Linked DNA regions of Homo sapiens: region 2 is linked to region 1. A link means that fine-mapping ties the variant in region 1 to the expression of a gene that starts in the linked region. Tissue or cell type: whole blood. Region 1 holds a variant in brackets; the other region holds the start of a gene. All regions are shown on one strand. Distances are between the middles of the regions.

Evidence for each region. PIP is the estimated chance that this variant, and not a neighbour inherited with it, causes the effect.
Region 2: ST6GAL1 starts here. The variant in region 1 is fine-mapped to the expression of ST6GAL1 in whole blood (TOPMed, PIP above 0.99).

Annotation. Positions count from the first base shown.
Region 1 is chr3:187,061,373-187,069,477 of GRCh38, reverse strand. All of the region lies in intron 5 of ST6GAL1 (ST6 beta-galactoside alpha-2,6-sialyltransferase 1), which reads right to left. Among named protein-coding and RNA genes, the nearest start is that of RPL39L, 74 kb to the left of the region's middle. RefSeq lists a silencer at 2,668-2,717 and an enhancer at 3,665-3,844. The variant T/AT (reference allele first, on the strand shown) is at 4,982.
Region 2 is chr3:186,926,884-186,934,988 of GRCh38, reverse strand. It overlaps ST6GAL1 (ST6 beta-galactoside alpha-2,6-sialyltransferase 1), which reads right to left and starts at 4,463. Exons shown (of 8, transcript NM_173216.2): 1 at 4,155-4,463. RefSeq lists enhancers at 2,017-2,076, 2,097-2,146, 4,240-4,848 and silencers at 4,043-4,232, 4,473-4,552.

The sequences.
Region 1 (8,105 bases):
TCAGGCCATTTCCTGCATAAGAACAGAGAAAAAGGAACAACTGGTATATGCCTGTGGGAGTAAGGTGGGGTGGAAATTTGAAGTTCAAGGATGAGGGCTGGGCTCACTTGAGGTCAGGAGTTCAAGACCAGCCTGGCCAACATGGCGAAACCCTGTCTCTACCAAAAATACAAAAATTAGCCAGGCGTGGTGGCAAGCACCTGTAATCCCAGCTACTTGGAAGGCTGAGGCAGGCGAATAGCTTGAACTCAGGAGGCAGAGGTTGCAGTGAGCCAAGATCGTGCCACTGCACTCTAGCCTGGCGACAGAGCGAGACTCCGTCTTGAGAAAAAAAAAAAAAAAGAAGAAGTTCAAGGATGAGACTACTGGCCAGGAGTTCCCTGGCTGACAGGCCATAAGAACTAAGAACAGAACCCACATCTTGTAACTTTTAAGTACTGTCCTCCTTCCACTGGGAACGTTGTAACTTAACAACAGCCCTTCAGGTCTATAGTCCAAGGGCAGAGCAGGCTTCCTGCTAGATGGGGATTTGTAAGATAGACGTGACTGAGCTGGTGACAGGGAGGCCTGAGGACAGAGGGCCAGTACTCCCTATCCTCATCCACCCTATTCCCCTGAAAACAGCTGTTATATTAAAAGCAAAGTGTCTTTTCTTTAGCTATGCTTCTTTCTATGCAGAGTACTGATGCCAGGTGATATATACATACTCATGAGGAATAGCAATAACTGGGATTTTTAAAAAATGTCTCCCCCTGCTATAGCCCCTTTCCAGCAATTTTGAGTATGCAAAGCAGGAGGCCAGCAACTCCTGGCTCCCTGAGACTTTCCCAGCTGTGGCTTCACCGTCCTCAGAAATTCCAAGAGATGCACGAAGCTTTCTTCTTTACAATATGTGAAAACAACAGACACCATTTAATGATGCTTACTACATGCTAGGTACTGTCATACCTCAACTCAGTTTATCTTCACAACAGCCCTAGGAAGTAAGTGTTAATATGTTCATTTTATGATTAAAGAAATAGAGATGCTAAATGCTAAGTAACTTGTCCAAATTACACAGTCAGTAAGTAAGAGAGTCTGAATTGGATTCTTAGGTCTAGCTCCAGAGACCACACTTCTTTTTTTTTTTTTTTTTTGAGATGGAGTCTCGCTCTGTTGCCCAGGCTGGAGTGCAGTGGCACGATCTTGGCTCACTGCAACCTCCGCCACCCAGGTTCAAGTGATTCTCCTGCCTCAGCCTCCCAAGTAGCTGGTACGACAGACATGTGCCACCACACCCAGCTAATTTTTTGTATTTTTAGTAGAGATGGGGTTTCACTGTGTTAGCCAGGATGGTCTTGATCTCCTGACCTCGTGATCCACCTGCCTCGGCCTCCCAAAGTGTTGGGATTACAGGCATGAGCCACCACACCCGGCCCAGAGACCACACTTCTAACCTATGTGCTATAATGCCTCACATAATGTGGGCAGGGTAGGGTACCACAGCTCTTGGGGAAGGACGTCAGAGAACACTGGATAGGAGTATGGAGTGTCAGGAGAATTTGCTTCTTGCCTGAGTTGTAGTATGTCACAGCTGGATGATACTCAAGGTATTAAATTCAGACCCATCATTTTCCAGATGGGTAAACTGAGGCCCAGAGAGACAAGAGAATTGTCTAAGGCTACGATGAGTTTGTGGCACAGTTAGAACCAGAGCCCAGAGGCAGGCTCCTAACAGATATTCTTTCTGCTCCAGCAGGACTACACCCATAAAACCATCAGACATTCAAATAAGCAAGCACACCATGAGGGTCAGGTCACCCTCAGTCTTCCTGTATCCAATGGAAAAACAGCCATTCACTTGAGCTACTTGAGATGAATGAGACAGTAATCCATGAAAATAGAAACAGGTGAAGATGAATGATAGTTTTATCCAGAGAAGAGAAACAGAAAGTGGCTGGGGCTGGGATCTGGTTGAGGGATAAGGGAGAAGCCAGCAAGCACTCCCCTCCTGGAACTTTACACATGGCTCTGAACTCACCCACATTAACACCATCTATATGAAGTTCAAAGATTTTCTACCAAAAAAAAAAAAAAAAAAAAAGGTTGCCTTGCCAGGTGCAGTGGCTCACACCTGTAATCCCAGCACTTTGGGAAGCTGAGGTGGGCAGATCACTTGAGGTCAGGAGTTCGAGATCACCCTGGCCAACATAGTAAAACCTCGTCTCTACTAAAAATACAAAAATTAGCCAGGCGTGGTGGCGGGCACCTGAAATCTCAGCTACTCAGAAGGCTGAGGCAGGAGAATCGCTTGAACCCCGGAGGCAGAGGTTGCAGTGAGCCAAGATCGCACCACTGCACTCCAGCCTGGGTGACAGAGACTCTGTCTCCAAAAAAAAAAAAAAAAAAAAAAAAAAGAAAGAAAGAAAGAAAAGAAGATTGCCTTAAAACTGGATGGGGAATTGGAAGCATGGGTTCCAGTCCTGCTCTGTGTCTAACTCACTCCATGGTATTAGATGGACCATGTCACATCTCCTGGCCTCAGGTGCCTTATTTAGACATAACCACCTTGTAAGGCCCTGCTGAGGGGACCAGCTGTTCCTGGAAGAATAAAGCTGTTCTCAAACGCCTGTACTTACCTGCAGGGGGAGTGTGACCTGGGTTTGGAGATCCTCTTAGGGGGCAGGGGAGGAGTTCATGCTGAGAATAAGTCATTGGCAGAGCAGCAGAGCCCTGGGGAACATCTGCCAGGAAAAGGCTACACCAGGGCATGGAGTGCTGCTGCTCAAGACACTGTTTAAAGTAACCTTCTCAGTTAGAAAGTAACAAATACTCACTGGGGACAGTTAGAAAATGCAAGAATAGAAACACACACACACACACACACACACACACACGCACGCACGCACATCTTCAGATATTACCACTGTGCATATTTTGGACTTTTTTCTTCTCAAATCTGTTTTCCCTCTGTTATAGACTGAATTGTGTGCCCCCAGAATTCCTATGTTGAAGCCCTAATCCCTAATGTGACTAATACCCTGTTTGGAAATAGGGCTGTGAGGGAGGTAATTAGGATTAAATGTGTCATGTGGTGGGGCCCTAATCCAATGGGGCCAGTGTCCTTACAACAAGAAGAGACCCGCAGAGCTCTCTCTTTCCACCACGCACAGAGGAAAAGCCATGTGAAGACACAGCCTGAAGGCATCCTTTCTCTGATTCGGAGAACTAGTGACTGAGACTGTGTCTGCTGGCCCAAATCAAGAAGCCCCAGAACTCATGATTGCCATCATGATTAAATTTTAGCTCCAATTATGATATTAATAGACTGTATGGCAGGGGTTCCATCAAAATCACCCAGCTCACCATCGCTGGTTTTAGACCCGTTGTTGATGGAAATCTCGCCCACCTCCCACCCGCCCTGCCAACCCATCCAGATACCTGTCTTTCAGTATCTTGAGAAGAAAAGTTGGAGCTTCCAGAAAGCTTTGGTGATTTAAAGTGCTGGTGGCAAACACCTAGAACCAAATCCCACCTCTGTCGCTTACTTTCTGGGCTCCTGTGAGCAACTTAAACTCTGGGAGCCTGAGTTCTGAGGTAAAATGGTGGTTGGTGGTCATACCTCACAGGGTTTGCCATGAAGATCAAATGAGAGAAGGCATGTAAGACCCTTAGATGGTATATATAATATATTTAACAAATGGCATCAACTATTATTTCAAGATAAGCCCCACTGAGTAATCTGGAAATGTCCTGGTTGCAGTCCAGTCAGTGTGGACTGTTGCTAGGCATATAGGAAGTAGGTCTTCTCTCTCCAGCTAGCACAAAAGCTTCCAAGGAAGCCACTGGGTCTTCTTGTCCCATTGTCTCCTCTCTCAGGCCCACAGGGTACAGGAGGTACTGAGTTGAGTCTCACAGAAACCTTCTTACTCTTATAGTCAAAACTGCATTTATTTAAAGACCTGTCCATTTACATATATCATTTTTCCTGTTGACTCTCATAGCCACACCTGGCACAGAAGTGTCACATGCCTGACTAGGTCTGCTGGCCTGAAACCTAACAGTATGACACCATTCTCTATAAAAAGCCACCTTCTCAATAAGAAAAGTGCCTTTTTTGTTTTGCATGCCTTCATCATGGCCAAGGGAGGGGAGCTGAACAAATGTGGGTCCAGATGGCTTTAGAAGAGAGCTGCTAAAGCCAGGCGCAGTGGCTCATGCCTGTAATCCCAGCACTTTGGGAGGCTGAGGCAGGTGGATCACCTGAGGTCAGGAGTTTGAGACTAGTCTGGCAAACATGGCAAAACCCTGTCTCTACTAAAAATACAAAAAATTAGCTGGGCATGGTGGTGCATGCCTGTAATCTCAGCTACTTGGGAGACCGAGGCAGGGGAATCACTTGAACCCAGGAGGCAGAGCAGGGAGCCGAGAGTGCACCACTGCACTCCAGCCTGAGCGCAAGAGCAAAACTCTGTCTCAAAAAAAAAAAAAAAGAAAAAGAAGAGAGCTGCTGTCAGGAGACCTCTCCGTCTGGGAAAAGAACAAGCCACTCAGAGGCAGAATTCTACCAAAGCAACAGCTATTCTCTCAGTGACTTCTGGGTGCCAGATGTTCTCCTTGTGGAGTGGGGGTGGGGACCCCGTTTACTAATCCACAGAAACAGACACAAAATAGTTAGGATAACTGACCAGGACAAAAGATAGAGAAGACAGACCACCAGCTTTTTAGGATATCAAGGTAAGAAAGGGCAATGATAGAAAGTGTCCATCACAGTTCAGTACCACCACAAGTGCTGTCATGGAGCGGCCAGGACTCGAGTACGAAAGGAACAGCCAGATACTTAGTGTTGCTTACAGGAGGTGAGAAAAGAGAGCTGACTTGCCTAAGAAGCAGCAGGAAAGGCTCTCTTGAGGGTGGGTAGTGTATCCCGGGAAGTGGGCCACCTTCCTCGCAGCCCTGGCACAATGGTGCACAGAGATCTAGAAGTGTAATGGGAAAAAAA[T/AT]CTGCTTCAGTAGAAAGCCATGCATTTTCTGAGCACACTCTTCCTCCCTGTCAGATTCTGATTCCACGGGAGCTATTTCGCAACCCTTTGTGAATTGTAGGCAACTAATACATGTGCCTACTGGGCAGGATGCTGCCCAGGAGAGTTTCAATTGATTTCTCCCCTCCCCCTGCCTTATCTCACAGAAAAACTAGTTCAACTCCTTTACTCCAAATTTGTGTTGCTTTGACTTTTCCTTTGAACCAGTTGTAATATCTGCCTGGTTCCATCATACGAGTAAAATAAAATCTTCATGATGAATTCATTTTTAATATCTGTATGAGAGTCATCATCTTACCTTTTTTTCCCTAAAAATTATCCTTTAACAGAAGTTTTGCCTCCCTTCTGCTAGATGCCTCTCAAGTGGTCTCAAGCTGACTCACCTTCCCTGTTGGGATTTGGGAAGGTGGAGTCATTCGCAAACAGGCAGAGGCAGACATTCAGGTTTCAGTAGTGCCCATCGCTACTATTTACAAAGCACTTGCTGCATACCAGCCTCTGGGTGACATGCTCCACACATAGTAACTCCTTTGATCCTAAAAAAAAACCCTGGATAGTAACTATTCATATTTCTGTGTTACAAGTAAGGGAAATGAGGCTCAGAAAGGTAAAGTAAAGCAACTTGCTGAAGTCACTCACACAGGAAGTGTTGGGGGAGGGATCTGATCAAAGCCTGCCTGACTCCAGTACTCTTAATTCCCAGGCAACCTTACTTTGGCCTTAAATACAGTTTCAAATCTTTGCAGGACTGGGGTTTCGTTCTTCACAGTGAGGAAGACTGAATCATCACGAAGAAGTGCTCAGAGAGTAGGTAGCCTCCGCAGTCCAAGAGAGTGCTCAGGGAGGGCTCCTCCCCTCTCCCCTCTCCTCTTTGCTGCTGCCTGCTCACCTCCAGATCCTACCATCCATGTATCAAACAGAGATTGGTTTCTCTCTAAATTCATTCTCTTCAACCTCAAAGTAGCCCAGCATGGCCTGGAAATCCTACTCCATTCATCAGGTTTACTGACGGTCCCACTCACCTCAATGACAATTATAAATCTCTTTGTTCAAACCTTCTCTACTAAAACCTCTTTCCCCCTCAGCCTCCTTCTGACTTGGCCTTGCATGCCACTTTGCAGAGAAAATAGAAGCCCTCTCATCCTTCTAATACTGACTGCCTCCAGCTACACCACTCGCACCTTCTTCCCTCTGACTCCCGCCTGCTGGGGTTCATCCTCCACTACGCTTTGGCTCCACCACCATCATGTTGTGGGTAACTAATCATTTTCTCCTCTTTTTAGTATATTCACTTTCTCCCTCTATCAACTGGTTTCTCCCTGTTGATTTAAAAGAAAGCTTTTAAAATATACATAACATAAAATTGACCATTTTAGCAACTTTAAGTATTCAGCTTAGTACATTCCTATTGTTGTGTAACTATCACCACCATCTCCAGAACTTTTTCAGCTTCCCAAAATGAATCACAGTATTCATTAAACAACAATTCCACATTCCTTTCTCCTCCTAGCCCTTGGCAAACATCATTCTACTTTGTTTCTACTCCAGGTGTTCCATATAAAGTGGAATCATACAGTGTTTGTACTTCTGTGACTGTCTCCCCTACTGACATTTTTTCCAATTTAAAAATTGTATTAAAATACATATAACATAACATTGACTATCTTAACCATTTTTAAGTGTACAGTTCAGTGATATTAAGTACATTTGTATTGTTGTGCAACTATCACCACAAACCATCTCCAAAACTTTTTCAGTCTTGCAAAATTGAAACTCTATACTCATTAAACAGTAACTCCCCATTCCCCCTCCCACCTCACATTCCCTGGCAACCACATTCATATAGTATTTTGTGTGTGTGTGTGTGTGTGTGTGTGTGTGTGACTGGCTTATTTCACTTGGCATAATGTCTTCAGGGTTCATCCATGTTGTAGCCAATCTCGGTATTTTCTTCCTTTTTTAGAATAATATTTTATTGTATGTATAAACCAGCTTTTGTGTATCCATTCAACATCAACAGACACTTGGGTTCCTTCTGCAGTCCAGCTATTGTGAATAAGAGTAGTCTGAATATGGGGGTATGAATATCTCTTCAAGACCCTTCTTTCAATTTCTGTACATATACGCCAATAAATAAGATTATTAGATTACACGGTAATTCCATTTTTAAGTTTTTGAGGCACTGCCGTACTGTTTTCCACAGTGGCTGACCATTTTCCATTCCCATCAACAGTGCCCACGGATTCCGATTTCTGATCATAGAAGCCACCCTAATGGGGGTGAGGTGGTGCTGTGTTGTATTCTTGGGTTGCATTTCCCTAGCAAAAAAGAGTTGAGTCTCTTTTCATGTGCTTACTAACCATTTGTATATCTTGGAGAAACGTCCATTCAAGTCCTTTGCCTATTTTTAAATTGGGTAATTTGATTTTTTTTATTGTTGTTTGAAGAGTGTTCTATATATTCTGTACATTAATCCCTTATCAGATAGATGACTTGCAAATATTTTCTCCTATTATGTGTGGTGTCTTTTTACTCTGTTGAGAGTATCTTTTGATATACAATTATTTTTAATTTTCATAAAGTCCAACTTGTATATTTTTTCCTTTGTTACGTATGTATGCCTTTGGTGTAATAATGACGAAATCATTGCCAAATCTGATGTCATAAAGTTTTTGCCCTATGTTGTCTTCTAAGAGTTTTATAGTTTTTGGTCTACATTTAGGTCATAGATCCATTTTGAGTTAATTTTTATTTTTGGTGTTAGGTAAGGGTCCAACTTTATTCTTTTGCATGTGGATAGCCAGTTTTCCCAGTATCATTTCTTAAAAAGACTGTCTTTTCCTCATTGAACGATCCTGACACACTCATCAAAAATCATTTACACATATATACAAGACTTTATTTCTGGACTTTTATTCTATTCCAATGGTTTATATGTTTGTCTTTGTACCTCACTCTCTCGATTATTGTAACATATGTATTTTTTGAAATCAAGAAGTGAGAGAACTCCAGCTTTATTCTTATTTTTCAGGATTGTTTGGTTAATCGGGGTCCCTTGAGGTTTCATATAAATTTTAGGATAGCT
Region 2 (8,105 bases), 130 kb after region 1:
TCGAGACCATCCTGGCTAACAAGGTGAAACCCCGTCTTTACTAAACATACAAAAATTAGCCGGGCGTGGTGGCGGGCACCTGTAGTCCCAGCTACTCGGGAGGCTGAGGCAGGAGAATGGCGTGAACCCGGGAGGCGGAGCTTGCAGTGAGCCGAGATTGCACCACTGCACTCCAGCCTGGGTGACAGAGCGAGACGCCATCTGAAAAAATAAATAAATAAATAAATACATAAATAAATAAAATTTTTTAAAAGCTGGTAAGCACTCAAGCCTGCCAAGAGGTCTGACCAGTCATAAGAATGCATCATGTGACTTAATGCCCTCAACAACCCCAGGAGATTCATACGCCTTACTCCCCTCACTTTACACAACGCAGAGGCAGCCTGCTGGTTTTCTGTTGTTGTTGTTTTGTTTTATTTTCTGTTTTTGAGACAGGGTCTCGCTATGTCCCCAGGCTGGAGTACAGTGGTGAGATCGCGGCTCACTGCAACCTCCACCTCCCAGGCTCCAGCGATTCTCCTGTCTCAGCCTCCCAGGTAGCTGGGACCACAGGAGTACGCCACCATGCCCAGCTAATTTTGTTCTTTTATTTTTTGTAGAGATGGCGGTGGGGGAGGTAGTCTCACTATGTTGCTCAGGCTGGTCTCAAACTCCTGAGCTCAAGGAATTCGAACTCTTCCCTCCTCGGCCTCCTGAAGTGCTGTGATTACTGGAGTGAGCCACCACACCTGGCCCAGCCTGCTGGTTTTAAAGTAATACTAGAGACAGGAAGATGACCCCAAACCCCTCCTATGGCCTGAGCATCTTCCGCTCCGCTGGAACAGCCTGTGCAGAGACTGGGCAAGGAGAACCCTCACTGTACAAAGAAGGAAACTGGAGCCCAAGAGGTTAAGTAGCATGAACAGCTAAGTGGCGCCTCTCTCTTCTGTCTTCTCACTGCCTCTTGCCTTATGATTTCATACAAAGCAGCCCCTAAATGGGGAAGCACAAGACAGAGACATGGAGGAACCCAGCACAAGAGTAAAGTGAACCGTTCAGCAAACACTAAAGAAAGCTGATCCCCAGAGATAATTGCACTATTCAGCATACCTACTACTGGGATCCCTGGCTTTGCTTAATAACCAAACCTATTTAAATCCATAAGGAATTGGTTCTCTGACTTAAAGGGTGTTGTTATAACAACCATAACTTTGGCTTTTCTCTGGAGTACCAACAACTACTGGTTTGATGCAACCATTTCCCTTTTACGCAAAAAGGTGCACTAAAAGTAGACCACGCATTGTTGTGTATCATTAGGCAAGCAATTTCTCTTCTCTAGGCCTCACTTTTCCCATCTGGAAAGTAAAAGGGTCCAGTCACATGATTTCTGAAGTTCCTTACAGGGTCAGCGTCCTGGTGAGAAAACTATACTGCAGTGCCAAGAGGAATTGATGTAGGATTTTTCTTCTTGGTCCTCGGGCCAGCAATGCCCCACCTGTGCTCGCTCGGCCATGCAGGTGTGTCCCAGCTCACTGTATTATAGCTTGTACCCGCGTTCGGTGGTTCCGAGCTCGTGCACCACACCAAAGGATAATGAGGATACACTGGACATTGAAGGGAGAGGAAGGCAGATAAGAATTTTATTGAGTGTTGAAAACAGCTTTCAGCAGAGAGGGGACACCGGGTTGGTCCCCTACCTGAAGACGGAAAAGTTCCCCAATGTGGCTGGGTCAGGGGCCTTTTATGGACTCAGAATAGGGAGTGCATGCTGACCGGTTTGTGAGTATGCAAAAAAGATGAAAGCAAAGACACCACTCAAAGGTGGGCACGGCAGCGTAGAAAACCAATTAGGAAAAAGTGGGTATATGTAAAACAGGCGAAATGTAGGAATCAATTAGGGGAAAGCACGCCAAACAAGTTCTCACTCTGGTCTGAGGATTTAACTCGTAGCTTGGCTTTCAGGCTTTAAACTGTCTTTGGCCTGGAGGTGGGGGTTTCACCGGGTACCTGACCCTATCTGCCTAGGCATCCAGCTGCCTCCTGTTGCTACCAGAATCACATTGAAAGTGAAACACGCTGGAAACTCTAAGGAAAAGAAACAAGTGTAACTAGGAGATAACAGGCACAGTGCAAAACAACATGTTAACTTTGGGGAAATCCGGCTTCTCAGTGTTTTTTTGGTTTTCCTACTTCTCTGCCAAATACAAAAATAAGCAGCTACTTCCATGGGACTCTCGTTAAAAAAAAAGTAACTTTAATAAGATCAGTGAAAACAATGCTTTGTTCTCCCACAAGTGGCTCAGGAGTAGCTTGCTAAGACACACTTTCTTCCCCGTGGGGCTGATGTCAACAGCCCATGCTTTTGCCCAAACAAAGGCCTCCTGGCACAAGGATGAGAGGCAAAACATCTGAGTCTCCGTAGCTGGCCTTATTCCAATTTGAGGGGAAGGGGCAGCCAGGAGAGAAAAATAACTAAGCTTTTGAAAGGCTTGAAGGAGAGTAAGGAATTACTAAATCTATTTTTTCTCAACAGAATAAAGAATTCTTGAAAGGGATAATGGAAGGGTGCAGCTTTCTATTTGAATTACTCTTTGTTTCACCCTATTCTGCCTAAGGCCACTGCCTTTTAGGCCAATCACAGAATCCCGGTTTTGCCTTTAGTTGCCCGCTGAGCGATGCAGTGGGAGTTGGGAGACCCACACTCAAGTGTTCTCTCTGTGGCCCGTTTCACCCGGTTTAAACTTGGACAAGTGGCTGAACTCTCCGGCCTCAGCTTCCTGCCTGTAAAATGAGAAGGCTCCCTAGATGCTCTCTAGACCTTTTCAATAACAGCGGAATAGGATTGGAGGCTCTCCAGTTCCCCCCCCGGGGACAGGTTAATCTTCAGCCACACTAGCCAAGGTGAGGCAGCAGCCCGCCCGCTCAGCAGGCACACACTGGGGCGGCGGCGCCTCCATTCCTGCTCACACTGCACGCCCACAACCTGCACCAACACCATCGCCTCAGAGACCAATTCACCGCGAAACCATCTCCCCGCTGCAGATCGTGTCCGATTAACATCTGCAAAGCTGAGCTGAGCATATGTAAGCAAAGAAAAAGCAAAACAAACAAGAGTTCTCTTTTTCCGGACCTCGGAATTTCTTTCAAATAAACTCAGAACTGAAAATTGTACGTCCCCAGCTAGAATACGAGGTCTCGGCTGGCCTTGCTTGCGAAAATGCATTAACAAGCCAAAAGGGGCTAGTGACATCTGGGGTGTCTGGGCACACGGACACGGGCCTCAGAGGCAAAGAGCAAGACCGCACTGGGCGACTCGTACATTCTTCCCGCAGGCTGAGGAGGCGACCAAAATATCCCCACAGAGGCAATCGCCGGAGTGCGGGGACAATAGTGCACCCAGCACTCTCTTTTTTTGAGGGGCACCCTTAGACCCTTAACCCAACCCACATCTCTAAGAGACCTCCAGGAGGTGAAGGTGAGGGGTGGTCCACTTCACCCAAAAGAATGCGCCACGGCCGGGGACCGACTCAGCCTGGAGTAACCTTTTTGTAGCTGCTTTCTTGTTTTGGTTTCCCTTTTTAAGTCTGGCAGTTTAGTCTGATGCCCAAGCGGTACCTTTTAAATGTCTCTCTCGCCCTCTTCCAGCAAGTGGCGCCTCTAGAGCCACTCCCTCCCCCGAGGCTGAGACAATGGCCCGGCACCGCAGGGCGGCCCCTAAGGGTATGCAGTGCGTCCAGCTCTCCGGGCAGGGCGCACGTGCGTTTGTTATGGTGCCTGTGCCCCCTCCGCTGCCGCGGGCCTCAATTTGTCGATCCGTAAACCCAGACTCTGCAAGGCGCAATGCCCCCACGCCACCCCACCCCATACTGACGGTGCCGTGGAGAAATCCGTGTTCCCCGGGGCTGTGCGCACGTGGGTTTGTTGTGGATCCGCAGGCTCGCGGAGCCAGAGAGAAGCCAGGGTGGCCCTTTGGCCCTGACAAAAATGCACACACCCCCAACCAAAAGGCGGCCAGCCCCGGAGCCAAGGCAGCTGAGGCGGAGCTGGAGAGAGATTCCCTGCGCCCTACGCGCGCCGCGGGCCCCGCGCCTCCGCTATCCTCCCGCGCCCCTTTGCATCACACTCCTCCCGGGATAGCCCGGGCCGCGCCGCCGCCCACCGCACCCCCTACTCACTCGCTGCACTCTCGGCCGCGGAGGCTGCGGTTGCTCAGCACGCTCGGTGGCGGCCGCCCGCTCCGCGCCCACGCCGGTCGGTATCGGCTCCCTTTGTTAACGCCGGGCAGTGCCCCAGGCGTCTTCCCCAGCCCGGCCCTGCCCAGGACTCCCCTCCCCCAGGTGACTCCAGAAAACGCGCTCGGCAAGGGCAGGATCGCCCGGGAGCTGGGGACCCCACTAGGGAGTCTCGAAAGAGGGGTCCGCTGGGGAAGAACGGGGGACAGAAGACGCACAGTGGAAGGGACTGGAGAAGGAAGGAAGAAGAGCGCGGCGGAGGGGCGGGAAGGAAGCGAGTCGCCTCCGTATGCAAATAGAGTTGCGAAGACTGGGTCGGTCTCCGCCCCCACTCCACCTCTCGCCACCGGCCACACCGCGCCCCAAACCGGCCTGGAGGTCGCTAGCGAGCGGGCTTGGGGTTAAAGACTCTTGATGAAGGCACTGGGTGATGCTAGAATCCTGCCTGCTCTCAAGGAGGGTGGATCGAGGGCCGAGTGGGAGGGGCCACGCGGCTGCGCAAGGACCCCTAAATGCCTCTTCCCCGCTTGGCCGCGAGGGGTCAATCCAGCAGTGTCCGGCTTTTGGTCCTAACATGCGGGTGCTGTACACCCGGTCTCTGCTACCGGCTGACTGCGAGACCCTGAGGAAGTCGCTTAACCTCTCCGAAGACTCGTGTTGCTCTTATCTAGAATAGGAAAGAACAAAATCTTTCACTGCGTTTGGCATTAACCTCCTAACATTGAGGCATGACTCCTACTGGGCGCTCTCAAATGGCAAATACAGAAGGAGAGGAGCGTCCTCGAACCCCTGCACCCAGAGGCTTCCACCCCAAGCTGCAGGCTGAAAGACTGAAGCCTCAGCCTGGATGGTGAAGGGAGCGAGGTTCTTTCTTTTCACCCGGACGACGGTGGGGCTGCTGGGGAAGGAAAGAGGATTAACCAAGCTGCGTACTGACCATCCCCGATAGCCCCAAGGCGATTTCCCTAAGAAAGAAAAACTGCCCAACAGGAGGGCGGAAGGGGCCTTTAAGGCCTCCAGTCCAGCCTCCCATAGCCCAAAGAGAGGATGTGACTACCAGAGGCAATAGTCATATCCCAGTTGTCTACTGAGTGCACACTAGGCACCAGGCTGTGTGCTGGGTGGGAAAGGGGAAAGGAAGGAGATACTGGAAGGTTTGGGGGTCCTCTGGGAACACAAAGTCCAGTGCACACTTAAAGTGCCTGAAGCCCAGGCCCAGAGTTCTGTCTCCAAATGAGGTGCCTACCCCACATCACCAACCTTGGAAAGGGAAGTTACATCCGCACCCTGTCCCCAGCACCCTTCTTCCAAACACTGCTTCCTCCCTGTCCTGATCCTGGCTCCCTTCTGCTGATACTGTCATTCCCTTCCCTGCTGCCCCTGAGGCATTTTTGCTCAGTACAAAGAGCTCCAATTGAAGGGAGTGCCAGCCAGAGTGAATTCAAATCTTTATGACCAACTCGCTGTGCCTTCTTGGGTGAGTTCCACATCCTGTGAGCCTCCCTTTCCTCTTCTGCAAAATGGAGATATTAAGGAAAGCGTTGTTTTCAGGATCCTGTGAAATGACCTACGTGAAACACGTAGCTTAGTGTTTGGCATATAGAAGGTGCTCCTGACAGTAAAATGTATGTATGCGTGAATGAATAGAAGCAGCCAAGTTCAGAAGACTATTTCTGGAAGGATGCTACATTGAAGATTTTAGGCCCTATTCGAAAAAGGGAAAAAAAAAAAGGAGGCTATTAAAAGATTCTGTGCAGTAGCATGACATGCATCTTTGTATTTTACAAGGATTCCTCTGGCACCACACTGGAAAATAGATGGCAGAAGCAGAGAATGCAAGAGACTAGATTGGAAGCTGACATCAATGGAGATATAATAAGAGCCTGAACTGTGTCAGTGACTGTAACAAGACAGAAGAAAAGGACATCTAAATAATAGCTACCATTTGGAGATCTGACATGGTTTGGCTCTGTGTCCCCACCCAAAAATCTCATCTTGAATTGTAATCCACATGTGTCAGGGGAGGGACCTCCTGGGAGGTGATTGGATCGTGGGGGGCGGTTTCCCCCATGATGTTTTTGTGATAGGGAGCTCTCACGGGATCTGGTTGTTTGATAAGTGTCTGGCATTTCCCCTGCATTCTCTCTCTCACCTGCCGCCATGTAAGATGTGCCCTGCTTCCCCTTCACCTTCCACCATGATTATAAGTTTCCTGAGGCCTCCCCAGCCATATGGAACTGTGAGTCAATTAAACCTCTTTTGTTTATAAATTACCCAGTCTCAGGTAATTTATAATTTTCTCAGTAGTGTGACAATGGACTAATACAGGATTCAAAGCACCTTATTTATTACATTGTCTCTCCTTTTCATCAGATAAGTAATGGTCTTAGTCCTATTTTATGGATTAGGAAACTGAAGTCATCTAGGAAGTGAAGAGAGAATTTGACACATTCTTCCACTTTCTTTGAAAGCTTTAATCATCTCCTTCATCATCACCCATATGTCAACATTACTTAAGAACTAAGAACAGCCTGGTGCGGTGGTTCACGCCTGTAATCCCAGCACTTTGGGAGGCCTAGGCGGGCGGATCATGAGGTCAGGAGACCAAGACCATCTTGGCTAGCACAGTGGAACCTTGTCTCTACTAAAAACACAAAACAAATTAACCGGGGCTGGGCGTGGTGGCTCACGCCTGTAATCCCAGCACCTTGGGAGGCCGAGGCGGGCGGATCACAGGTCAGGAGATCAAGACCATCCTGGCTAACATGGTGAAACTCCATCTCTACTAAAAATACAAAAACAAAATTAGGCGGGCACGCGATGACGGGCGCCTGTAGTCCCAGCCACTCAGGAGGCTGAGGCCGGAGAATGGTGTGAACCCAGGAGGCGGAGCTTACAGTGAGCCGAGATCACGCCACTGCACTCCACAAAAGCAGAAGGCGCTCTTTCAGAGGTTGTCCAGTCCCCACTCCGCAGTTCTCTTTTGCAGAGAACTGGAAAACCAAATTAAGGAGAAAACAAGGGAAAAGGTTATCTCAACACTGAGATAAGCACAGATGATATGACACGTGCAAAAATTTCCTGGGCGTCTGAGACAGATGAGTGGGCAAGCAAGGGTGCTCCTGGTAAAATTCCAGGATGGGGGCCATTGTGGAGCAGCCTCCACCAAGGTTCTCTCTTATCACTTAGGACCCTCTGACCTATAAGTGAGAGGCAGAGGCTGGGGCATTACTTTGGAGATGATCCTGTCCTCCCAGTCTATACATGTGAGGCTTCTCCTCCCATTTTCTCTGGGGTCCCTGCCTTGACAGGTTGGTTTTGGTTTTTTTGAGAAGTACAGATACCCACTTTCCCTCTGGACAGTATCTCAGTTCTGGGCCCTCCACCCACAGCTTCCTGCTATGGTCTGCATGTTGTATCCCCCCAAAATTCGTACAATGAATTCCTAACCCCCAAGATGATGGTATTTGGAGGTGGGGCATCTGGAGGAGGTGATTAGGTTATGAGGGCAGAGCCCTCACAAATGGAACTAGCGCCCTTATAAAAGAGACCCGGACCAGGCATGGTGGCTCACACCTGTAATCCCAGCATTTTGGGAGATTGAGACGGGCAGATCACCTGAGGTCGGGAGTTCGAGACTAGCCTGGTCAACATGGTGAAACTTCATCTCTACTAAAAATACAAAAAATTAGTTGGGCGTGGTGGCAGTCACCTGTAGTCCCAGGTACTCGGGAGGCTGAGGCAGGAGAATTGCTTGAACCCGGAAGGCAGAGGTTGCAGTGAGCCAAGATCACGCCACTGCACTCCAGCCTGGGCAAACAGAGCAAGACTCTCTCTCAAAAATAAGTAAATAAATAAATAAATATTAAAAAGTAAAATAAAAGAGACTCCAGA